3 separate regions of the Homo sapiens genome follow, and regions 1 and 3 are each linked to region 2. Evidence: fine-mapped expression QTL. A gene starts in region 2. Each other region holds a variant in brackets. All regions are shown on one strand. Distances are from middle to middle.

What was found. PIP is the estimated chance that this variant, and not a neighbour inherited with it, causes the effect.
Region 1: its variant is fine-mapped to the expression of IFFO1 in whole blood (INTERVAL, PIP 0.99).
Region 3: its variant is fine-mapped to the expression of IFFO1 in whole blood (TOPMed, PIP above 0.99).

Annotation. Positions count from the first base shown.
Region 1 is chr12:6,628,067-6,636,242 of GRCh38, reverse strand. LPAR5 (lysophosphatidic acid receptor 5) reads left to right here and starts at 284. Exons shown (of 2, transcript NM_020400.6): 1 at 284-336. RefSeq lists a silencer at 2,318-2,367 and enhancers at 3,283-3,342, 4,193-4,242. The variant A/G (reference allele first, on the strand shown) is at 3,593.
Region 2 is chr12:6,552,822-6,560,997 of GRCh38, reverse strand. It overlaps IFFO1 (intermediate filament family orphan 1), which reads left to right and starts at 4,956. Exons shown (of 10, transcript NM_001193457.2): 1 at 4,956-5,741. The coding sequence starts at 4,969. It overlaps NOP2 (NOP2 nucleolar protein), which reads left to right. Exons shown (of 16, transcript NM_001258308.2): 12 at 1-67; 13 at 211-300; 14 at 429-551; 15 at 672-900; 16 at 3,356-4,127. The coding sequence ends at 4,005. RefSeq lists silencers at 4,779-4,938, 4,989-5,228, 5,339-5,518 and enhancers at 5,979-6,479, 6,480-6,980.
Region 3 is chr12:6,499,297-6,507,472 of GRCh38, reverse strand. All of the region lies in intron 2 of NCAPD2 (non-SMC condensin I complex subunit D2), which reads right to left. Among named protein-coding and RNA genes, the nearest start is that of NCAPD2, 9.3 kb to the right of the region's middle. The variant T/A (reference allele first, on the strand shown) is at 4,257.

The DNA.
Region 1 (8,176 bases), 75 kb before region 2:
GTGCCAGGAAGAGTTCCCAGACACAGCAGGAATATCTGAACGATGGGTGGGGGCAGTTCCTAGTCGGGGCTGGATTAAGTATCCTTAGCTGCTGGGGTTTCTTCTCTGGCCAGTCCGTGAAGGCCTCTGAGGGCAATGCTTCCTCTTCACTCTCTCCTTGGCCCGTGTGGGGTTGGGTGAGTGCACTGAGCTGGGAGGGATGGGCTGAGATCTGCTGAGGTGGGTGTGTCCCCTCCCGCCCTGGGAGCAGGTCCTACCAGCCCAGCCCAGCCCAGCCCAGCCCAGAGCAGGCAGCGGAAGCCAGCTTGGGGCAGCGCAGAGCAACACGGAGCACAGGTATGGGGGTGTCACGAATTGAACTGCACAGGGAGCACAAGGGGAGCACCCCCCTGTAGAAATGGGAGATTTGGGTGGGGGACAGAGAAGAGGGTGGGCATGGGCCCTGGAAAACCCTTCTGAACAGAGTAAAAAGCCGAAAGGAGCTGCCTCAAATAGACAGATCTTTTCAGATGGCGCTGGACAAACAGCTAACATGCCTGCTACACCTCGGGAGTGCTCCTCTTTGATGCTTGAAGCCCCCACTCTGGGGCATCTCGCAGAGGCTGTGTCCTCCCCCTCCCCCTCTAGGCCCCCACTGTGGAACTGAGCCTTGGGCCTCCCAGGGAGGGCCCTCTGGGGACTGTTTACACACTTTTTCCACTCGCAGTTAAACCTCAACCCCTACACCACACATCCCCCAGGGCCAGGCAGATGACAATGAGCTGATCTAATCAAACTTGCTAATGGGTTGACTGGCAGAGATGTGTTCTCAGTGTTATCCTTCCCAACTAGCCAAGGTGTACTGTAATGGGGTCTTCAGGAAGTGCTGCCTTAACCCAAAAGGTGCATCTATATAAGGGGATTAGACTGATGGTCTTTGATGTCCCTATGGCTCTGATAGATGGTGGCTTCAGGGGATGGAATTTTGGAGGTGGGGGACATATTCGGAGGTCAGCAGGGCTTTATGATACCTTCACATCACACCATGAGGATGGGGCCTACCTCTTCCCTGTGGTTGTGGGGCCCCCATGACAAGAAGGGGACCTCCACCAGATTGTATCTCCAGAACTACTCCTTTTTTTCTCTCTTCCTTCCTTCCTTTCTTTTTTTTTTTTTTGAGACAGAGTCTCCCTTTGTCACCCAGGCTGGAGTGCAGTGGCACGCTCTCAGCTCACTGCAACCTCCGCCTCCTGGGTTCAAGCAATTCTCTGCCTCAGCCTCCTGAGTAGCTGGGATTATAGGTACGCACCACCATGCCCGGCTAATTTTTGCATTTTTAGTAGAGACAGGGTTTTACCATCTTGGCCAGGCTGGTCTTGAACTCCTGACCTCATGATCCACCTGCCTCGGCCTCCCAAAGTGCTGGGATTACAGGCATAAGCCACGGTGCCCAGCCATTTTTTTTTTCAAGACAGGATCTCACTCTGTTGCCCAGGCTGGAGTGCAGTGGCATGAACATGGCTCACTGCAGCCTCAAACTCCTGGGTTCAAGCAATCCTCCCACTTCAGCCTCCCGAGTACCTGGGACTACAGGCAGGCACCACCATGCCCGGCTAATTTTTTTTTTTTTTGAGATGGGGTCTCGCTCTGTCGTCTAGGCTAAAGTGCAGTGGCATGATCTAGACTCACTGCAAACTCCGCCTCCTGGGTTCAAGCTATTATCCTGCCTCAGCCTCCAGAATAGCTGGAAATATAGGCTTGAGCCACCACAACCAGCTACTTTTTGTATTTTTTTTGGGTGTGTGTGTGTTTGTGTAGAGACAGGGTTTCACCATGTTGCCCAGGCTGGTCTTGAACTCGCGCTAAAGTGATCCATTCGCCTCTGCCTCCCAAAGTGCTGGGATTACAGGCGCGAGTCACACACTCGGCCTCTGTTAGTTTTTTGAAATTTTTTTGTAGAGCGGAGCGTGGTGGCTCACACCTGTAATCCCAGCACTTTGGGAGGCCAAGGCGGGCAGATCACAAGGTCAAGAGATCGAGACCATCCCAGGCAACATGGTGAAACCCCCGTCTCTACTGAAAAGACAAAAATTAGTTGGGCACGGTGGCACGCACCTATAGTCCCAGCTGCTCGGGAGGCTGAGGCAGGAGAATCCCTTGAACCCGGGAGGCGGAGGTTGCAGTGAGCTGAGATCACACCACTGCACTCAAGCCTGGCAACAGAGCGAGACTCTATCTCAAAAAAAAAATATTTTTTGTAGAGATGGGGTCCCACTATGCTGCCCAGGCTGGCAGAAATCCTCCTTTTAGGGTGAGCTAAAGTTGTAGACCCAGTGGGACATGGAGGCAGGGATTGAGGTGAGACAGAAACTTACTCACATGCAGTATGTACAGGACTCACCACCCAGCCACTCAGAGGCACTAGAGCCCAACTCCATCTGTCTGATGCCATCTGCTCTCCCTACTCTGCTGCCCCCAGTGCATACCCCAGGACATACCTACTGACAGAGATCTTTTATGCCCAGGGGCATTTTAAAAAGCCCAGGAGAATGGCCGGGCACAGTGGCTCACGCCTGTAATCCCAGCACTTTGGGAGGCTGAGGAGGGCAGATCACCTGAGGTCAGGCATTCAAGACCAGCCTGGCCAACACAGTGAAAACCCATCTCTACTAAAAATACAAAAATTAGCCAGGCGTGGTGGCGGGCGCCTGTAGTCTCAGCTACTCGGGAGACTGAGGCAGGAGAATTGCGTGAACCCGGGAGGCGGAGGTTGCAGTGAGCTGAGATTGCACCACTGTACTCCAGCCTAGGTAACACAGCAAGCGAGACTCCATCTCAGAAAAAAAAAAAACAAAACCCAGGAGAAGGAACCGGCAAGAGCAGTGAGGGCTGAAGCCAGTGCACTCTAAAGTCAGGTGAGGTCAGCAAAGCCCACAGGCTCTGGTGGATTTCCCTGAGGAAGCAGGACCTGCCAGGCTACAAGCAAGGGTCAGATGCACACAGACCACCTCAGGACACAGGTCAGGGGGCTGGGCCTGCCTCCGTGGCTTCTCTTGGGACTGACTTTCTTGCTTTTCCAGCTCTCGAAAGCAGGGTAAAGGGAGAGGCACAATGGCAAGGTGATATCCGCACATCAGGGAAACTAGTTATTGAGCTGTAGACCACCTTTGCTTTCTGCCTTTTCCCAGACAAATGTCAGGAGGGATGAGGTCAGAGTACTCAGGGAGGGAGAAGCCAGGGCCGAGGATGATGCTGGAAATGCAGGAAAAGACAGGCTTCAGCAGAGAAGGGTGGGGAAAGGCAGGAGCAGGAATTCTGGCTGGAGAAGCAGGCAGGCCTGGGCCAGGGAGGAGGGAAGACACGACCTGACACCCGGGATCCGTGCCAGAGACTCCTCTCTGAGGAAGAATGTGGCCCCTGGGCAGAAGGAGGCCTCCCCGCCCACCCTGGGGACTTTGTACTGTCTCCAAACCTTGAGGATGAGGATTCATCCTCCTGTTCCATTTAGTCTTCCATCTCATCCCTGCCCCTCAGGACCAGGATAAGCGGAAGAAAAGGATTCATTTGTGCCCTCAAAACAGCTCTGGGACAGAGCTTTTCACAAAGGCTTTGG[A/G]CTGAGCTAAGCTTCTGCTGGAGGCTCAGCACAGCTGGGGTCTGTTTGGAGGGCCTGGATACAGAGATACTGAGTCTTCATGATGAAGCCTGTCTGTGGGGAAAGGGTGCATCCTCCCAGCGCTGCCTGAACACAGAAGCAGAGGAAGTAGGCTTCGCTAATTCAGCGAGTGGGTTAGAGTACATACTAAAGAGGGACTTCCTGTGTCGGGGCTGAGACACTGATGGGCCACGAGACTCTAAAATGAGGGTGGGGCTATTCCAGAGCTGATTCTCAGGGGCAAGGAGGATGGGGAGATGTAAGAACCTTCTTTTCAGACCTCTGACCCTAGGAATTGGAGTCAGGGGACCCAGGATGTGAATTATTTGAAAGAGGAGGCAGGCCGGGTCCAGTGGCTCACGCCTGTAATTCCAGCACTTTGGGTGGCCGAGGCAGGCAGATCACAAGGTCAGGAGTTCAAGACCAGTCTGGCCAATATAGTGAAACCCCGTCTCTACGAAAAATACAAAAAATTAGCCGGGTGTGGTGGTGTGCGCCTGTAATCCCAGCTACTCAGGGGGCTGAGGCAGGAGAATCGCGTGAATCCGGGAGGCAGAGGTTGCAGTGAGCTGAGATTGCACCGTTGCACTCCAGCTCAGGCGACAGTGCGAGACTCCGTCTCAAAAACAAAAGAAAAAAAAACGGAAAGAAAGAAAGGAGGCAAAAGACAGAGCAAGGCATGTGGTGTTTGCGGGGAGGTGGGCAACACAGGAAGGGTATGGGGGAGGAACTGGGCAAAGAGGAGGCATTCCCCTGCCCCTGCCCTTCTCATTGTTCCCAGCCCCCTGGTCCTTTCTCTTCAGCTCCCCTCAACGTCATTTGCCCAAGAGGCTGGATACCAGGGCAGGGTGTGTGGAGGAGAGTGAGGGAATGATCATGATTGCACCTCCTGCTCACTTTTACACTCTTGTTCTCACTTCCTGCCTCTGGCATAAAATAGCCCTGCCCCTCTGGCTTATCTCAGCAAAGAGCAGTGCCCAGCCCAGCTCAGAGGGCAAATGGGACAGATCCCAGAGGCCCTGAGGAGGTAAGTAACCTGGCCCCCGGATGTGTACATGGGAAGCTGAAGGACGGAGACCCAGGGAGAAGGAAGGTGGCTGCACACATTCTGGTGTGTGAGCGGTGTTGGGGTGGGTGATATAGAAGGAGCAGTCCCGGACCCTCTGTGTGTGTCGTGGTCACTTTGCTCCTCAGTGCCTTGGGGTTGAGATCTCCCATGCTTGTGAAGCTGCCTGGTTCTGTCTGTGTAAGGATACTGTCCCTAAGGCAGGGCCTTCTTTCTCTTCCTCCCCAGCCCAGTTGTCTATGCACATACGTGTTTATTACAGGATGTGTATAGACACTGAGTTCTATGTTACTAGGGGTCTTGTGTGCACATCTCTTAGCGTGTGTGTATATGTGTCTGTGCACACACGTGTAATGAGTGGTATACTTACCTGACATCAGTGTGTGCCGACGTTCTTCAGCCTATGGGGGCCTCCATGTCCCTCCTTCCTGGTGTTCCTTCTTTTCTGGGGCAGCTGCCATTTCTTTGATTCCTGCATCTCTCCTACAGCCTGACCTCTTCTTCAAGGCAGGATTGGGGGAGAGGGTCTGGGCTGCCCCTCCCCAACACCTAGATTCCCTCCTTCCACATCCTGTTAGCCTCCTTTTTGGCAGTTTTTTCCATCTTCGCCATCTGGCCTGGCACTGTGCCCATTCAGCTCCTGAAGGGAGCCCCAGGGCTCGGGAAGCAGAAGTGTGGGATGGGGACCAGGCCAGGGGCCTGGCAGCTCTCAGTGCTCAGCTTGGGCCGTTCTGTGTGACTGTCAGAAAGAGGCGGCTTTTTGACCACCAGGATCCTTTATAAAGATGGGCTGGGGCCAGGTGCGGTGGCTCATGCCTATAATCTCAGCACTTTGGGAGGCCGAGCCGGGTGGATCAACTCAGGTCAGGAGTTCAATACCAGCCTGACCAATATGGTGAAACCTGTCTCTACTAAAAATACAAAAATTAGCCAGGCATGGTGGCGTGCACCTGTAGTCCCAGCTACTCAGGAGGCTGAGACAAGAGAATTGCTTGAACCTGGGAGGAAAAGGTTGCAGTGAGCTGAGACTGTACCACTGCACTCCAGCCTGGGCAACGGGGAGACTCCGTCTCAAAAAAAAAAAAAAAAAAAAAAAAAAAAAAAAAAAAAAAGATGGGCTGGGTGCAGTGGTTCACTCTTGTAATTCCAGCACCCAGCACTTTGGGAAGCCGAGGTCTGCAGATCACTTGAGGTCAGGAGACCAGCCTAGCCTGACCAACATGGTGAAACCCCATTTCTACTGAAAACACAAAAAATTAGGCAGGTGTGGTGGTGCGAGCTATGATCCCAGCTACTTGGGTGGCTGAGGCACGAGAATTGCTTGAACCCAGGAGGCGGAGGTTGCAGTGAGCCAAGATTGTGATACTGCACTCCAGCCTCCAAACGAAGTGAGACTGTATCCAAAAAAAAAAGAAACCCAAGAACTTCTCCCCTTTGGAATAGAGTAACAAGAGAGCATCGCCATTTCCTTTGCTAAAAAATTCCTAGCTATACCTTTACATTTATTTATTTATGTTTTTTGAGACAGAGTTTCACTCTTGTCACCCAGGCTGGAGTGCAGTGGCGCGATCTCAGCTCACTGCAACTTCCGCCTCCTGGGTTCAAGGGATTCTCCTGCCTCAGCCTCCCGAGTAGCTGGGATTACAGATGCCGCCACCATGCCTGGCTAATTTTTGTATTTTTAGTAGAGATGGGGTTTTCACTATGTTGACCAGGCTGGTTTTGAATGCCTGACCTCAGGTGATCCGCCCGCCTCAGCCTCCCAAAGTGCTGGGATTACAGGTGTGAGCCATCACTTCGCCTAACTTTACCTTTAAGTAGCCGCTCAACTAATAATCTTGGTCTATTTAACATTTTAATTTTTTTTTTTTTTTGACGGAGTCTCACTCTGCCATCTAGGCTGGAGTGCAGTGGCGCAATCTCGGCTCACTGCAACCTCTGCCTCCCGGGTTCAAGCGATTCTCCTGCCTCAGCCTCCCGAGTAGCTGGGATTACAGGCAGGTGCCACCAAGCTCGGCTAATATTTTGTATTTTTAGTAGAGATGGGCTTTCACCATGTTAGCTAGGATGGTCTTGGTCTCCTGACCTCATGATGCACCCACCTTGGCCTCCCAAAGTGCTGGGATTACAGGTGTAAGCCACCGCGCTTGGCCCTTTTTTTTTTTTTTTTGAGACAGAGTCTCGCTCTGTTGGCCAGGCTGGAGTGCAGTGGCACGATCTCGGCTCACTGCAACCTCCGTCTCCCGGGCTCAAGCAATTCTCCTGCCTCAGCTTCCCGAGTAGCTGGGATTACAGGCGTGTGCCACCACCCCTGGCTAATTTTTGTATTTTCAGTAGAGATGAGGTTTCACCATGTTGGCCAGGCTGGTCTCGAACTCCTGACCTCAGGTAATCCGCCCACCTCGGCCTCCCAAAGTGCTGGGATTACAGGCGTGAGCCACCGTGCCCGGTACATTGTAACTTTTTCAACAGAAAGACTTGAGATCAGCCAGGCACAGTGTAATCCCAGCACTTTGGGAGGCCAAGGCAGGCGGATTACCTGAGGTCAGGAGTTCGAGACCAGCCTGGCCAACATAGTGAAACCCAGTCTTCTCTACTAAAAATACAGAAATTGGCCGGGCATGGTGGTTCACGCCTGTAATCCCAGCATTTTTTGGAGGCTGAGGCGGGCAGATCACCTGAGGTTGGGAGTTCGAGACCAGCCTGACCAACATGGAGAAACCCCATCTCTACTAAAAATACAAAATTAGCTGGGCGTGGTGGCACATGCCTGTAATCCCAGCTACTAAGGAGGCTGAGGCAGGAGAATCGCTTGAACCTGGGAGGCAGAGGTTGCGGTGAGCGGAGATCGTGCCATTGCACTCCAGTCTGGGCAACAAAAGTGAAACTCCATCTCAAAAAAAAAAAAAAAAAAGAAATTAGCTGGGCGTGGTGGTGAGCGCCTGTAATCTCAGCTATTCAGGAGGCTGAAGCAGGAGAATCACTTGAACCCGGGAGGCGGAGGTTGCAGTGAGCCGAGATTCTGCCACTTCACTGCAGCCTGGGTGACAGAGCATGCGAAACTCCATCTCAAAAAAGAAAAGGAAGGAAGGAAGGAAGGAAAGAAAGAAAGACAGACTTGAGGTTCTTTGAAAATCATCCATCCACTCATTCAGTGTCTAGTATATGCTTTCTAATTGGAAGGATCTACTGGTTCTCCAAGTAATGGTTAAGAATGATCAAGTGGGCCTGGCGCGGTGGCTCACGCCTGTAATCCCAGCTCTTTGAGAGGCCAAGGCGGGCAGATCACGAGGTCAGGAGATAGAGACCATCCTGGCTAATACAGTGAAACCCCAGCTCTACTAAAAATACAAAAAATTAGCCGGGTGAGGTGGCAGGTGCCTGTAGTCCCAGCTACTCGGGAGGCTGAGGCAGGAGAATGGCGTGAACCCGGGAGGCAGAGCTTGCAGTGAGCCCAGATTGAGCCACTGCACTCCAGC
Region 2 (8,176 bases):
CAACTTGCATCGGCTGGGAGTCACCAACACCATTATCAGCCACTATGATGGGCGCCAGTTCCCCAAGGTGAGACTCGAGCTGTGTGTCTTCTGAGGCTTCTTCCGGTTGACCTTCTCCCTTCCTGACCTCAATGTTTAGACTCGACCCTAGTAAATATTGCCCTGCTGGTTGCAGAAGAGACATATGATTCATCTGTATCTTTTCTCCAGGTGGTGGGGGGCTTTGACCGAGTACTGCTGGATGCTCCCTGCAGTGGCACTGGGGTCATCTCCAAGGATCCAGCCGTGAAGACTAACAAGGTGAGGAGTCAGGTGGTGGGCCCCTGAGAGGCCTTGGCTGGGTCTCGTAGAGCTGGAAACTGAGATGGGGACACCCTCTGGGCTCCCCTCTCCTCCTGAGGCTGCCTTTGGGTCTCTTTTTGGGACAGGATGAGAAGGACATCCTGCGCTGTGCTCACCTCCAGAAGGAGTTGCTCCTGAGTGCTATTGACTCTGTCAATGCGACCTCCAAGACAGGAGGCTACCTGGTTTACTGCACCTGTTCTATCACAGTGAGACCTCTGCCATGGCAGAGCAGGGGAGGCTGGGCTGGGGGGCTCTTTGCCCCTTAGAGCTCCCTTCAGCTCCAGCTCTGCTTTTTCCTCCGTTCTTTGTCTTCCCCCCACATCCAGGTAGAAGAGAATGAGTGGGTGGTAGACTATGCTCTGAAAAAGAGGAATGTGCGACTGGTGCCCACGGGCCTAGACTTTGGCCAGGAAGGTTTTACCCGCTTTCGAGAAAGGCGCTTCCACCCCAGTCTGCGTTCTACCCGACGCTTCTACCCTCATACCCACAATATGGATGGGTTCTTCATTGCCAAGTTCAAGAAATTTTCCAATTCTATCCCTCAGTCCCAGACAGGTAAGTAATCTTTTTCTTCCCTTCGTCACCACCTTTGCTCTTTCCACCTTTCAGGAGGCTTTATGGTGTGACAAGAGGAAGGGAAAGGAAAGATTCATGCATCCCTTACTCCAGCCTTTGCATGCTTGGCTGAGAGAACCCTCTCATTCCAGCTAGAATTGCTTTTGAGTGCTGGACCCCATGTGAACAGGCTAAAGTGTTCATATGGATGGAGGCCTGTTCCTTTATTCTGCCAAGTGGCTGCAGTTGTTCAGCACTAAATGCATTCCAAATGCAGGTTGTGGTTTCTTTTCCTTCTTGGCACAGGGTGGACTTACTGGTACTGGACCTCTGCTGGTCCAGCAATCTCAGCACTGGGTTGGAACAGAGCTCCACAGAGCTTTGTCAGCAGTTCTCTGAGCCCTTCACACTCATTGCAGATTGTTTTCTCAGCCATCTTGAGGAGTCTGGCCTGGATCTCAAGGGAAGGGTGGGGTTTTCTGAAACAGCCTTGAGAGCACTGCTTACTGGGATATAACCCTGGGTTTAGTTGGAAGAGGGAGAGAAGTGCTACTTTAGAAATAGTAGAATTTGTCTGGGCGTGGTGGCTCATGCCTGTAATCCCAGCACTCACCTGAGGTCAGGAATTCGACACGGTGAAACCCTGTCTCTACTAAAAATATAAGAATTAGCTGGGTGTGGCCAGGCACGGTGGCTCACGCCTGTAATCCCAGCACTTTGGGAGGCCAAGACGGGTGGATCACGAGGTCAGGAGATCGAGACCATCCTGGCTAACACAGTGAAACCCCCATCTCTACTAAAAATATAAAAAATTAGCTGAGCTTGGTGGTGGGCGCCTGTAGTCCCAGCTACTCGGGAGGCTGAGGCAGGAGAATGGCATGAACCCGGGAGGCGGAGCTTGCAGTGAGCTGAGATTGTGCCACTGCACTCCAGCCTGGGCGACAGAGTGAGACTCCGTCTCCAAAAAAAAAAATTAGCTAGGTGTGGTGGTACGTGCCTGTAGTCCCAACTACTCAGGAGGCTGAGGCAGGAGAATCACTTGAACCTGGGAGGTGGAGGTTGCAGTAAGCCGAGATCACGCTATTGCATTTCAGCCTGGGCAACGAGCAAAACTCCATCTCAAAAAAAAGGAATAGTAAAATTTGCTATAACTTAAAAAGTACATATTTTAATTATCCCGCACTTCATCACAATTCACATGGAAAGAAACTTCTCTGATTTAAAAAATAAATAGGCCAGGTGTGGTGATGGCTCATGCCTATAAATCCCAGTACTTTGGGAGGCTGAGGTGGGAAGATTGCTTAAGACCACGAGTTTGAGACCTGTCTGGGCAACAAAGGGAGACAGTAGTTCCAGCTACTCTGGAGGCTGAGGTAGGAGGATCCCTTGAGCCCCAGGAGTTTGAGGTTGCAGTGAGCTATGATGGCACCACTGTACTCCAGCCTGGGCAACACAGTGAGACTCTACCTCAAAAAAAAAAAAAAAAAGATAAATAAAGCCTAGTGCTTCAAATTCATTTAGAAGACCCTGCGAGGCCGGGCGTGGTGGCTCGCGCCTGTAACCCCAGCACTTTGGGTGGCTGAGGCAGGTGGATCACCTGAGGTCAGGAGTTCAAGACCAGCTGGTCAACATGGTGAAACCTCATCTCTACTAAAAATACAAAAATTAGCCGGACATGGTGGCGCACGGTTGTGATTGTCCGGAGGCTGAGGCAGGAGAATTGCTTGAACCCAGGAGGCAGAGGTTGCAGTGAGCCGAGATCACACCACTGCACTCCAGCCTGGGTGACAGAGTGAGATTCCATCTCAAAAAAAGAAAAAAAAAACCCCAAAACCCTGAGAATCACCTCTTCCTTACAGCATCTTGTTACTTCCTGTCCTCAAGAGGGCGCAGCTTCCTGTAGAAACCTTTTGGCCCAAGGATAGGCAGTGATTTTTTTTTTTTTTTTTTTTTTTTTGAGACGGTGTCTTGCTTTGTCGCTCAGGCTGGACTGCAGTGGTGCAATCTCAGCTCATTGCAACCTCCACCTTCCAGGTTCAAGCGATTCTTGTGCCTCAGACTCCCAAGTAGCTAGGATTACAGGTGTGTACCACCATCCCTGGCTAATTTTTGTATTTTTAGTAGAGATGGTTTCACCATGTGGGCTAGGCTGGTCTTGAACTCCTGGCCTCAAGCAATCCACTTGCCTTGGCCTCCCAAAGTGCTGGAATTACAGGTGTGAGCCACCACGCCTGGCCTATAGGCAGTGATCTTTTAATACAAGGTTCAACTAGGACTTGAGTAAAGGCCAAGTTATATTAAGTAATGGGAATTTAGGTAATCTGCTCTTAGGCACTGACCTAATTGTGTGGAGCTCCTGCCCAGGAAATGGCAATTCTCATATTTTAATATGAGAATATTAAAATATGGTGATAAGGCCCATTTTCTGACACCATCTGTTTAATTTTAACCCCAGGAAATTCTGAAACAGCCACACCTACAAATGTAGACTTGCCTCAGGTCATCCCCAAGTCTGAGAACAGCAGCCAGCCAGCCAAGAAAGCCAAGGGGGCTGCAAAGACAAAGCAGCAGCTGCAGAAACAGCAACATCCCAAGAAGGCCTCCTTCCAGAAGCTGAATGGCATCTCCAAAGGGGCAGACTCAGAATTGTCCACTGTACCTTCTGTCACAAAGACCCAAGCTTCCTCCAGCTTCCAGGATAGCAGTCAGCCAGCTGGAAAAGCCGAAGGGATCAGGGAGCCAAAGGTGACTGGGAAGCTAAAGCAACGATCACCTAAATTACAGTCCTCCAAGAAAGTTGCTTTCCTCAGGCAGAATGCCCCTCCCAAGGGCACAGACACACAAACACCGGCTGTGTTATCCCCATCCAAGACTCAGGCCACCCTGAAACCTAAGGACCATCATCAGCCCCTTGGAAGGGCCAAGGGGGTTGAGAAGCAGCAGTTGCCAGAGCAGCCTTTTGAGAAAGCTGCCTTCCAGAAACAGAATGATACCCCCAAGGGGCCTCAGCCTCCCACTGTGTCTCCCATCCGTTCCAGCCGCCCCCCACCAGCAAAGAGGAAGAAATCTCAGTCCAGGGGCAACAGCCAGCTGCTGCTATCTTAGATGGTTGAAAACTAGACGGGTGGCTCACTGCCATTGTCACCAGGTTGGAACTCTTGCCTCTGTGAGGATGCCTTCTCTACTGTGCATACCCATGAAATTTAATACACATTTTAAAACCTCTGGCCACTGAGTATTTTTGAGGGAACTGGGTGCTGCCTTTGCCGCTTTAAGGGTAAAGATGGGAGGTGGGACTGGGATCTTCTGAGGAGAGGGAATGGTTGGGTGCTACTGAGAAATAAGGTCAGTTTTAGGCTCCTGCATCCTTGGGTTTTCCCAGGAAGGGAAAGCCCTGGAGTCAGAGCTAGGGGTGATTGAACTCCGGGGAGAGGAGGGCAATAGAAGTGTAGGGGAAGGCGGGGCACACTAGCTCATGCCTGTAATCCCAGCACTTTCTGGGAGGCCAAGGCGGGTGGATCACCTGAGGTCAGGTGTTCGAGACCAGCCTGGCTAACATGGCGAAACCTCGTCTCTACTAAAAATACAAAAAATCAGCCGGGTGTGGTGGCGGGTGCCTGTAATCCCAGCTACTCGGGAGACTGAAGCAGGAGAATCGCTTGAACCTGGGAGGCTGAGGTTGCAGTGAGCCAAGATCGCGCCACTGCACTCCAGCCCGGGCGACAGTGAGACTCGGTCTCAAAAAAAAAAAAAGTCGTGTAGGGGAGATGGGCTTGCCACCAGAACCCATGGGGTACTGGAGGTCCTGGGCTTTACGCCACCCCGGCTGGAGTCCAGGCGGTGGCTCCCCTCATCACAGGGCTCGGCCTCAGACCCGGAAAGGTCCAGGGTCCGGCCTCCAATTGGAGCCTGTCATTGGCTTCCCCTCGGCCCGCCCCCTGACCTCTGCCCCGCTGCCGAGCCGCCTGATTGGTCGGCTCTGTCCCGCCGGCGCCGCATTGGCTCTTCTGGCTCGCCTTCCATCCCTGCTCCTGCACCGGTCTGCATCTCCCAGCAGAAGGCGCAGCCATGAATCCGTTATTCGGCCCCAACCTCTTCCTCCTGCAGCAGGAGCAGCAGGGCCTGGCCGGGCCACTGGGGGACTCACTGGGAGGCGACCACTTCGCCGGGGGAGGAGACTTGCCCCCGGCGCCTCTCTCGCCGGCCGGCCCTGCTGCCTACTCGCCGCCCGGGCCGGGCCCGGCCCCGCCTGCCGCCATGGCCCTCCGCAATGACCTGGGCTCCAACATCAACGTGCTCAAGACCCTGAACCTCCGGTTCCGCTGCTTCCTGGCCAAGGTGCATGAGCTGGAGCGCCGGAACCGGCTGTTGGAGAAGCAACTGCAGCAAGCGCTGGAGGAGGGTAAGCAGGGCCGGCGGGGCCTGGGTCGTCGCGACCAGGCAGTGCAGACCGGCTTCGTCAGCCCCATCCGGCCCCTGGGGCTGCAGCTGGGCGCCCGGCCGGCCGCTGTCTGCAGCCCTTCGGCGCGCGTGCTGGGCTCGCCCGCGCGCTCCCCGGCCGGCCCCCTCGCGCCCTCCGCGGCCAGCCTCTCGTCGTCCTCCACCTCCACCTCCACCACCTATTCCTCGTCGGCCCGCTTCATGCCCGGCACCATCTGGTCGTTCTCGCACGCCCGCCGGCTCGGGCCGGGACTGGAGCCCACTCTGGTGCAAGGGCCTGGCTTGTCGTGGGTGCACCCGGATGGGGTGGGCGTCCAGATCGACACCATCACGCCCGAGATCCGCGCTCTCTACAACGTGCTGGCCAAAGTGAAGCGGGAGCGGGACGAGTACAAGCGGAGGTAGGGATTGGGAAAGGGGGACAGGTCTCTCTGTGTCATACCACTCACAACGGGCCGCGAGTTGGTGTGGGTTCCGAAGAATCAGGGGTGAAAAGAATGAGAGTAAAGTTTGTGCTGTGTAATGAGGAGCTTGGAAGCAATTGGATGCAGGGAGACTAGAATCCGCAGAGAATGCAGAAGCCCTGCTCGTGACAGGAAGAAGGACGCTGGGAGCGGAACACGGGGGGATTCCTACTTTTCCGGCTTGTCTCTGCCATCCAGGCTTAACTGCGGGTTTTGTGCGGTGTGAAAGGGACTGGGGCTCTGCCCTACCGGTCTCAGCCCTGGGGCAGGTTAGGGATATAAACTTCAAAAGTAGGAGGCAAGGATATAGCGTAAATTTGGGAGACTAAATTGAGTGAAACTGGAAGGGGCTGGTGAGGGAGGGGCTGTACCTTGCAACGAGTGATTCTTTCACACCCCAAGGTTTCCCAAAGAATATTGATGGAAACCAGGTACCTGCTGTGGTTTCATAGGAAAAGCTCCGGGACCTCAAGCCATTGCTTGAGTAGGTCAACAAACTGGGAAAAGAAAGAGTGAAGGGAATTCACTAGGGTGAGGGTGGAGAGCAGGGCTGACAGGGGAATCTTGGCAGTATAAAGCGCCAGTGGGGAGGGAGAGTGGAGAGCCAGCAGGGGACTGAGCAGGGAGAAGCTGGGATATGGGCCCTCCCTAGGACCGCGAGGCCGCGGGGCGGGCCCGGTGCATTCTGTGGATGAAGATTTGGCTGTCTGAGAGGAGCCCGGCCCCAAGGGGCAAGGGAAAGGGATGTGATGCCAGGAGTGCTGGCTGTATACCAAGTGGATTCCTTAGATGGCTGATAACCAAGCCGATAGGACAGGAGTGAGAGCAGAGGTAGTGTCTTGCAGACTCCAACCCAAGCCTTGAGGAGGGAGCGGGTGACTGACAGGCTTTGGTTTGGCGGCCTCCCCTCTCATCTCAGCTATTATGACCCCTTGTGGGCGGGCCTGGGAACTACCTATGCAGCCCAGTGTGGCGGAGATTCAGCACTGGGTGAGGATTGGCCGAATGTTCTAGGAAATGACCGCTGGGTCTAGGGGCGACCTTCAGGGATCTCCACCCTGCTGGAGTTTACCAGATCACAGATCAGCAGGCTTTCTTTTTTTTTTTTTCCCATAAATGATAATATTTTATTATAGAAAAAGCATCCCAAATACAGGATTTCGTAAACACTGGTAGGTGAACAAGTGCAATTTTAGAAGTAAATGCAAAGTAAAGAGGCAAAACCTACAAGCATTTTGCCTTCAGAAGAAGATGTAGTGTTCTCCTGCACTAGTGATCCCACCCAGAACACAAATGTGGCTCTGTCTCCCGTGAAAGCATCAGATTTGCTTTCTGAGCTCAGTATGCCCATTTCAATAATTGCAAAGTGATGGCAAGAAGTGGCGTTGAACACATGACTACAGACCCTTGACTTAAAATATTGAGACAGGGACTTGCTCTGTCATCCGGGCTGGAGTGCAGTAGCGTCATCACAGCTCACTGCAGCCTCATCCTCCTGGGCTCAAGCAATCATCCTGCCTCAGCCTCTTGAGTAGCTGGGACTACAGGTGTGCACTACCATGTCCATGCCTGGCTATTTTTTTTTTTTCTTTTTGCGTTGTCCAGGCCAGTCTCAAACTCCTGACCTGATCAGCAGGCTTTCTGAGCTTGAGTCCTGTCCTCGTGCTGGCTTCCTTAGTTGTGGTCCATGTTATGTGTCCTTGGGAGTTTCAGTTGTCCTGAAATCATCGTTCTGCCACCCAGAACCAGCCTGCTCTGCCCCTGCAGGAGTTAACTACGCGCTCAGCAGTGGCACAGGCACAGTTCTGGAATACATCCATAACCACAGGAACAACTGCTGTTCTCAGGAGCATTTTTTTTTTAAACTGAAGGAGCGTTTGTCCTTGGTCCAGCTGTCCAGGACAGGAAGGAGTTATTCCTTGGGGACTGATTAGCTCATCGCTCTGCAGCACGCTGCTGTGTAGAGAGCCTTAGCTGGATTCGGATGGTGCGTGATACTGGCAGTGACTCTTCTTCCTCCCTAGATTCCCTGCCCTCATTCTGGTCTCTTTATAGCAACACTGTAACTCCTGTCTTCTGCCTGGAAGGCCTGGGATGGCTTGAGCGCTACACTGGGAGGTAGCTAAAGGCCTCCTGCGTTCTATTTTCAGCTCCCCTGCCTTGTGCGTGACCTTTTTTTGAGCCCCCATTTTCCCAACATAGGAATGGTCCCTGCTTTCTCTCTTCAACCCAGGGATACAGTTTTTTGGAAGAGAGATATTTGGTCCATGCAGAACACATGGATATCGCTCTCAAATTCTGCCCATGTTAAGGGAACCTTATAAGTGAGACCAGATGGAAATGGAGGTGAAAATGAACCTGTCTGTGTGAAG
Region 3 (8,176 bases), 54 kb after region 2:
CTTTCACGGCGACTGGCCAAGGAGAGGCACCCCTCTGCAGAGAAGTAAAATTGCTTTCCTAAGAATCCTTTGTTTGAATGTTCATTTTCCTTAGGATTTTGAGTGTTATTCCCAACACTCCCAAAGTACTCGGATTAAAGGCATGGGCCACTGCACCCAGCCTCCCTTCATTTTTGTTCCCTGACTGTCTTGTATCATGAGATGGGCTGGGCTCAAGCCTGTAATCCCAGCACTTTGGGAGGTGGAGGCAGTAGAATCGCTTGGGCCCAGGAGTTCAAGATCCGCCTGGGCAACATGGTGAGGCACCATCTCAAAAATAAATAAATAAATAAAATAAAAGATGTTCTGGGCTCATCTTGTATTTTCCCTGGCCCAGTCCTGTAATCAACCATTCTTGGTGGAATCCTGGCTATTACGGAATAATGGTATGTAGAAGCCAAATTCTAGGCATTACTTGCACTCATTTCTATTAGAGTATTACTGCCTTTAGGCCCTCTCACTGGAGAAAAGTAAGGCACCTATGTATGTCTACAATTAATCTTCGAACAATACGATTTGAATTGTGTAGGTCCACTAATATGCTAATTTTTTTCAGTAAATATACTGGAATTTTTTCTTTCTTTCTTTTGAGACAAAGTCTCACTCTGTCTCCCAGGCTGGAGTGCAATGGCACAATCACAGCTTACTGCAGCCTTAAATTCCTGGGCTCAAGCAATCGGGCTGCCTCAGCCTCCTGAGTAGCTAGAACAACAGGTATGCTCTACCATATCTGGCTAATTTTTTTTTAAAGCTACATATGTCATGAACGCATAAAATTTATGTAGATCCTAGTCTATTTTATCATTTACTACCATAAAATATATATGTCTTTTTTTTTTTTCTTGAGACGGAATCTCTCTCTGTCGCCCAGGCTGGAGTGCAGTGGTGCGATCTCGGCTCACTGCAAGCTCTGCCTCCTGGGTTCACGCCACTCTCCTGCCTCAGCCTCCCGAGTAGCTGGGACTACCGGCGCCCGCCACCATGCCCGGCTAATTTTTTGTACTTTTTTAGTAGAGACGGGGTTTCACGGTGTTAGCCAGGATGGTCTCGATCTCCTGACCTCGTGATCCGCCCACTTTGGCCTCCTGAAGTGCTGGGATTACAGGGGTTGAGCCACCGTGCCCGGCCAAATATATATGTCTATTATAAAGTTAAAACTTATCAAAACTTGATGCAGGCTGGATGTGATAGTTCACACTTGTAACCCCACCACTTTGAGAGGCTGAGGCAGGAGGATCACTTGAGGTCAGGAGCTCAAGACCAGCTTGGGCAACATGGCAAGACCCCATCTCCACAAAAAATAAAAAATTAGCTGAGCACAGTGGGGTGCACCTGTAGTCCTAGCTGTTCTGGAGGCTGAGGCGGGAGGATTGCTTGAGCCTAGGAAGCTGAGGCTGCAGTGAGCTGTGATCACACTACTGCACTCCAGGCTGGGTGACAGTGAGACCCCATGTAAAAAAAAAACACCAAAAAACCTCACACACAAACACAGACAGTACATGACATCATTCACAGCCCAAGAGAAACGGAAATAAATATAAAGATGCAATATTATTTGTTTTTGTTTTTCTGAGACAGGTTCTTGCTGTCACCCAGGCTAGAGTGTAGTGACACAATCTCAGCTCACTGCAACTTCTGCCTCCCAGGTTCCAGCGATCCTCCCACCTCAGTCACCCTGGGAGCTGGGACTACAGATGCATGCCACCACACCCGGCTAATTTTTATATTTACCACACCTGGCTAATTTTTGAATTTTTAGTAGAGACAGGGTTTTACCGTGTTGGCCAGGCTGATCTTGAACTCCTGATTTCAGGTGATCCACCTGCCTAGGCCTCCCAAAGTGCTAGAATTACAGGCGCGAGCCACCACACCTGGCCTAAAGATGCAGTATTAAATCATAACTGCATAAAATTCACTTCAGTACACACTGTAGTACTGTAATAATTTCATAGCCGCCTCTTGTCGATACTATGGTGAGCTCAAATGTTGCAAGTATCTGCTTAAAAACTCTGAGATGTTAATCATCTTCCAGTGAGCAGTTCGTCTCTCCAGTAAACTGCATATGGCAGACCGGGCACGCTGGCTCACACCTGTAAATCCCAGCGCTTTGGAGACCGAGGCGGGTGAATCACTTGAGGTGAGGAGCTCGAGACCAGCCTGACCAACATGGGGAAACCCTGTCTCTACTAAAGATACAAAATTAGCCAGGCATGGTGGTGCATGCCTGTAATCCCAGCTACTTGGGAGGCTTAGGCAGGAGAATCGCTTGAACCCGGGGAGGCGGAGGTTCCAGTGAGTCGAGATCATGCCACTGCACTCCAGCCTGGGCAACAAGAGTGAAACTCTGTCTCAAAACAAAAATTGCATATGGCAGCAAGAAGTGATCTCCTGTGGTTCCTCAGGTATTTTTCATGTGTCTAAAGCAGTATCATAAACCTTACATAACACCATGGGACCCATAATGAAGTGCCACTAGTGATGCTGGAAGTGTTCCCAAGAAGCAGAAAAGAGTCATGACATTACAAGAAAAGCCAAATTGCTTCATATGGTACCATGGACGGAGGTCTGCAGCTGTGGTTGCCTGCCATTTTACATGATTCATCATGTAAACTTATGGTGTCGATAAATACAGCACAATACTGAACATGTATTTTCCTTATGATTTTCTTAATAACATTTCCTCTAGCTTGACTGCAAAAATATAGTAAATAATATACATAACATAAAAAACATATGTATTAAGGCTCGACGCGGTGGCTCACACCTGTAATCCCAGCACTTTGGGAGGCCGAGGTGGACAGATCACTTGAGGTCAGGAGATTGAGACCAGCCTGGCCAACATGGTGAAACCCCATCTCTACTAAAAATACAAAATTAGCCAGGTGCAATATTGCATGCCTGTAGTCTCAGCTACTTGGGAGGCTAAGGCCGGAAAATCACTTGAACCCAGCAGGTGGAGGTTGCAGTGAGCCGAGATCGCGCCACCACACTCCATCCTGGGCCACAGAGCAAGACTCTGTCAAAAACAAAACAAAACAAAATAAAAAAACTGTTATGTTACTTGTAAGGCTTCTGGTCAACAGTAGGCTATAAGTGTTTAAGTTTTGGGGCAGTCAAAACTTACATATGCAGATTTTTGACTGCACAGGGGTTGTCATCCCTAACCCCCACGTTGTTCAAGGACCAATGGTATATATATATATATATATCTATATCTATATATATATATATATATATATATATATATATATGTATATATATATGTCAAAACTGAATGAGATAGTCCATGCAAACCAGTCAGAACAACACTTAGCACGCTGTATGGTTTGAATGTGCCCCTCATAATTCATGTGTTGGAAATATAATCCCCAACATGACAGTGTTGGAAGGTGGAGTCTAATGGGAGGTGTTTAGGTTATGAGGGCTCCACCCTCACAAATATATATACATATTTTTGAGACGGAGTCTCGCTCTGTCGCCCAGGCTGGAGTGCAGTGGCATGATGTTAGCTCACTGCAACCTCTGCCTCCTGGGTTCAAGCAATTCAGTGCCTCAGCCTCCCGAGTAGCTGGGATTACAGGTGCCTGCCACCACACCTAGCTAATTTTTCTATTTTTTAGTAGAGACGGGGTTTCACCATCTTTTTTAAAAAAAAAAAAAAAATAGATGGAGTCTCGCTCTGTCACCCAGGCTGAAGTGCAGTGGCACGATCTCGGCTCACTACAACCTCCGGCTCCCAGGTTCAAGTGATTCTCCCGCCTCAGCCTCCTGAGTAGCTGGGATTACAGGCACGCGTCACCACACCCGGCTAATTTTTTGTATTTTTAGTAGAGACGGGGTTTCACCATATTGGCCAGGCTGGTCTCGAACTCCTGACCTTGTGATCTGCCCGCCTCGGCCTCCCAAAGTGCTGGGATTACAGGTGTGAGCCACCGTGCCCAACCCCTCACCGATATATTCATACTATTATAAAAAGGGCTCTGGGGAGTGGGTTCACTTGTGCCCTTCTGCCTTCTGCCCTGTGACAATGCAGCAAGAAGGCCCTTGCCAGTTACTGGTGCATTGATTTGGGACTTCCCAGTCTCCAGAAAAAAATGTGAGCCAATAAATTTCTTTCATTATAAATATCCAGTCTCAGGCATTCAGTTATAACAGCATATTTTTCTCAGTCCATTTTCTATACATCGTATTTCCATTGTTGAGCTTGTATCACATAT[T/A]CACTTCTCTGTCATGCTTTTTAAAATTTAGCATTACAGTAAGTGTATTAGAAACCTTTGTAGGCCAGACGTGGTGGCTCACGCCTGTAATCCCAACACTTTGTAGGCTGAGGCAGGTGGATCATCAGGTCAGGAGTTCGAGACCAGCCTGACCAACATGGTGAAACCCCGTCTCTAATAAAAATACAAAAAAAAAAAAAAAAAAAAAGCCAGGTGTGGTGGCATGCGCCTGTAATCCCAGCTGCTCAGGAGGCTGAGGCAGGAGAATCGCTTGAACTGAGGAGGTTGCAGTGAGCCGAGATAGTGCCACTGTATTCCAGCCTGGGTGACAGAGTGAGACTCCGTCTCAAAAAAAAAGCAACAACAACAACAACAACAAAAACACCTTTGTAAACAATTTTTTTTGAGACAGGGTTTGTTGTGTTGCGCAGGCCGAAGTGCAGTGCAGGATCATAGCTTACTGCAGCCTCAAACTTCTGGGTTCAAGCGATCCTCCTGCCCCAGCCTTCTGAGTAGCTGGGACTACAGGCAGTGCCACCACACTCGGCCTTATATCTATCTTAATTTACTATTCCCCTATTGTTAGATACTGTGATACTTGTAACTTATTCCACTAATTAACAACAACAACAACACATACTCCCCTGGCAAATCTAGGTTAAACCAACTTTCTGGTTACTCCATTCATGTGACCACACAAATAAAAATGGCCTGAGAAAAACACAGAAACAAGCTGACTAGTCTTACGTTAAACTCATGACTACTAACCTGAAGTGGGCATTCGTACTCCCAAGTCTATTCGTTTTCTTCTAGGCAATTATTTCACACCTATCCTCTGCTCATAACACCATGACCTTCTTCCCAAACTCACTCTCAGTTAAAGGCTTTCCCTTCCTATTGAGGAAACAGAAGCAGACAGAAGAGAACTTTCAACTGCCCCAAGCTCTATATTTACCTGCACTAGTTGCATCTATGCCCATACATACACTCTGCCTTTTTTTTTTGCTACTGTGGATAAACTGTCCATGTTCTGATAAAGCCATCTCCTCCCCGTGTACCAGATCACGTACTCTCTTACCTACTAAAGGCACTGCTCCAACAACTGTTCCCTCTTCCTTCTGCAGCATCAGCTTTTCCCTCTCTGATCATTCCTACTCAATATAGACACACATAATGCTGCCCATCTTAAAAGAAATACATTATGTAAATTCATCATCTCTAATCTCTGTCATTCCATTTTCTTAAAAACCTATTCCTAGCAGGCTTTTGCCCCCACCATCTCCTGAAACAGCTTTGTCAAGGTTACCAGTGACTATGACATCAATAAATCCAGTAGTTAATCTGCAGTTGACCTCTCTTTTGTTTTTGAAACACTCTCTTTATTTAGCGTCCATTTAGCTCCTTCATTCGCTTTCTGCCCCAATGACTGCTTCTTAATTTCTTCTACTGGTTCTTCTTCATCCTCCTAGCCTCTAAATGCTGGACTGTCTCAGGTCTTGGTCTTCAAACTGCTGCTCTTCTCCATCTACACTCACTGCAATCTCATGGCTTTAAGTGCTGTCTACACGCTGAGTATTAAATCCTAAATGTGTATCTTTAGCTGACAACCTCTCCCTTGAACTCTGCACTCACATAACCAACAATCTAAACCTCTCCCTCCCATATGCTACCCCATCTCAGTAAATGGCAACTTCATTCTTCTAGTTGCTCAAGTCAAAAAGCCTTGTAAGGCCGGGTGTGGTGGCCCACGCCTGTAATCCCAACATTTTGGGAGGCCGAGGCAGGCAGATCACTTGAGGCCAGAAGTTCAAGACCAGACTGGACAACACGGCAAAACCGCATCTCTACTAAAAATACAAAAATTAGCCAGGTGTCGTGACCCTGGGAGGCGGAGCTTGCAGTGAACCGAGATGGTGCCACTGCACTCCAGCCTGGGCGAGAGAGCGAGACTCTGCCTAAAAAAAAAAAAAAAAAAAAAAAAAAAAAAAATTAGCCAGGCGTGGTGGTGCACACCTGTAATCCTAGATACTCAGGTGGCTGAGGCATGAGAATTGCTTGAACCTGGGAGGCAGAGGTTGCAGCGAGCCAAGATCACGCCACTGCACGCCAACCTGGGTGACAGAGCCAACAGAGCAAGACTGTCAAAAAAAAAAAAAAAAAGCCTTGTAATCATTCTCATCTCAGATTCCTTTACTAACCCTATAATCCAATCCAATCCATCAGCATTCCTGTAAAAGCTCTACTTTGAAAATATATCCTGAGTCGTTTTATCACCACTTCCCCTGCTATCCCTCCAGTCCAATCTACTTGGTATTACTGTATTAGCCACTTAACTAGTATCCCTGCTTCTCTCCTTGCCTCTTATAGTCTCTGCTCAACACAGTCGCCAGTGAATCTTTTAAAATGTCAGACCATGTCACTCCCATGCTCAAAACCCAATGGCTTTCAAGTTCATTCACACTGAAGTTCAAGTTTTTGCCATGATCTACGAGGCTCTAGAGATCAGTGCTTCTCAAGCTTATAATTGCATCCAAATTGCCTGGGGGAATCTTCTTAAAATACAGATTTCCTGATTCAGCAGCTTTGACATCCTGGGCCTTGACATCCTGCATTTCTAATAAGCTCCCAGATCATGAGATCCTGATATTAACACTGCTGATCTGAGGACCACATTTTGAGGAGCAAGATTCTAGAATAATCTGTACCACTTCCTACCTAATCTCTTTTTCCTAGCTTAATGCACTCCAACTCTATTGGCATTTGCCCACCTCAAGGCCTTTGCATAGGCTTTTCTGTTTGCTTGGAATGCTCTTCCCTAACAATCTGCATAGTTTATTTCCTTACTTTCTTAAGGTCTCTGCTCAAACGTGACGTAACAGCAAGCCTTCTCTGATGATCCAACATGAAATGACAGGTCCTACTATCTTCTTCTTTATATTATTTATTTTTAAGCTTTGTATAATTAATTTTAGAGACTATGTTGCCCAAGCTGGTCTTGAACTCCTGGCCTTAACAATCCTGCTTCTGCCTCCCAAGTGGTTGGGATTACAGGGACAAGCCACCATTCCCAGTACACTTCTTTTTTTTTCTTTTTTGAAACAGGGTCTAGCTCTGTGGCCAGGTTGCAGTGCAGTGGCATGATCATGGCTCACTGCAGCCCCTGCCTCCTGGGCTCAAGCAATTCTCCCACCCCAGCCTCCCAAGTAGCTGGAACTACAGGTGTGCACCACCACGCCTGGCTAACTTTTTTGTAATTTTGGTAGAGATGGGGTTTCACCATGTTGGCCAGGCTGGTCTCAAACCCCTGAGCTTGAGCAATCCAACCACCTTGGCTTCCCAAAGTGCTAGGATTACAGGTGTGAGCCACTGCGCCTGGCCACACTGTCTTCTTTATTTTTCTCTTTGGCTCTTACAACCATCTTACACACAGTGGTCCTCACCAATCTGTGTTCTCACTTTCTGGGGTTTCAGTTACCCGTGGTCAATCTCAAGTCTGAAAATATTAAATGAAATATTCCAGAAATAGGCTGGGCACAGTAGCTCACGCCTATAATCCCAGAACTTTGGGAGGCCAAGTTGGGCAGATCACCTGAGGTCAGGAGTTCGAGACCAGCCTGGCCAACATGGTGAAACCCCAGCTCTACTAAAAAATACAAAAAAAATTAGCTGGATGTGGTGGTGGGCACCTGTAATTCCAGCCACTTGGGAGGCTGAAGCAGGAGAATTGCTTGAACCTGTGAGGTGGAGGGTGCAGTGAGCCGATACCTTGCCACTGCACTCCAACCTGGGCGACAGAGCAAAACTCCGTCTCCAGAACAACAAAAAAACCCCCCAAGAATTAGCCAGGCGTGGTGGCACTTACCTGTAGTCCCAGCTGCTTGGGAAACTGAGGCAGGAGAATTGCTTGAGCCCAGGAGGTG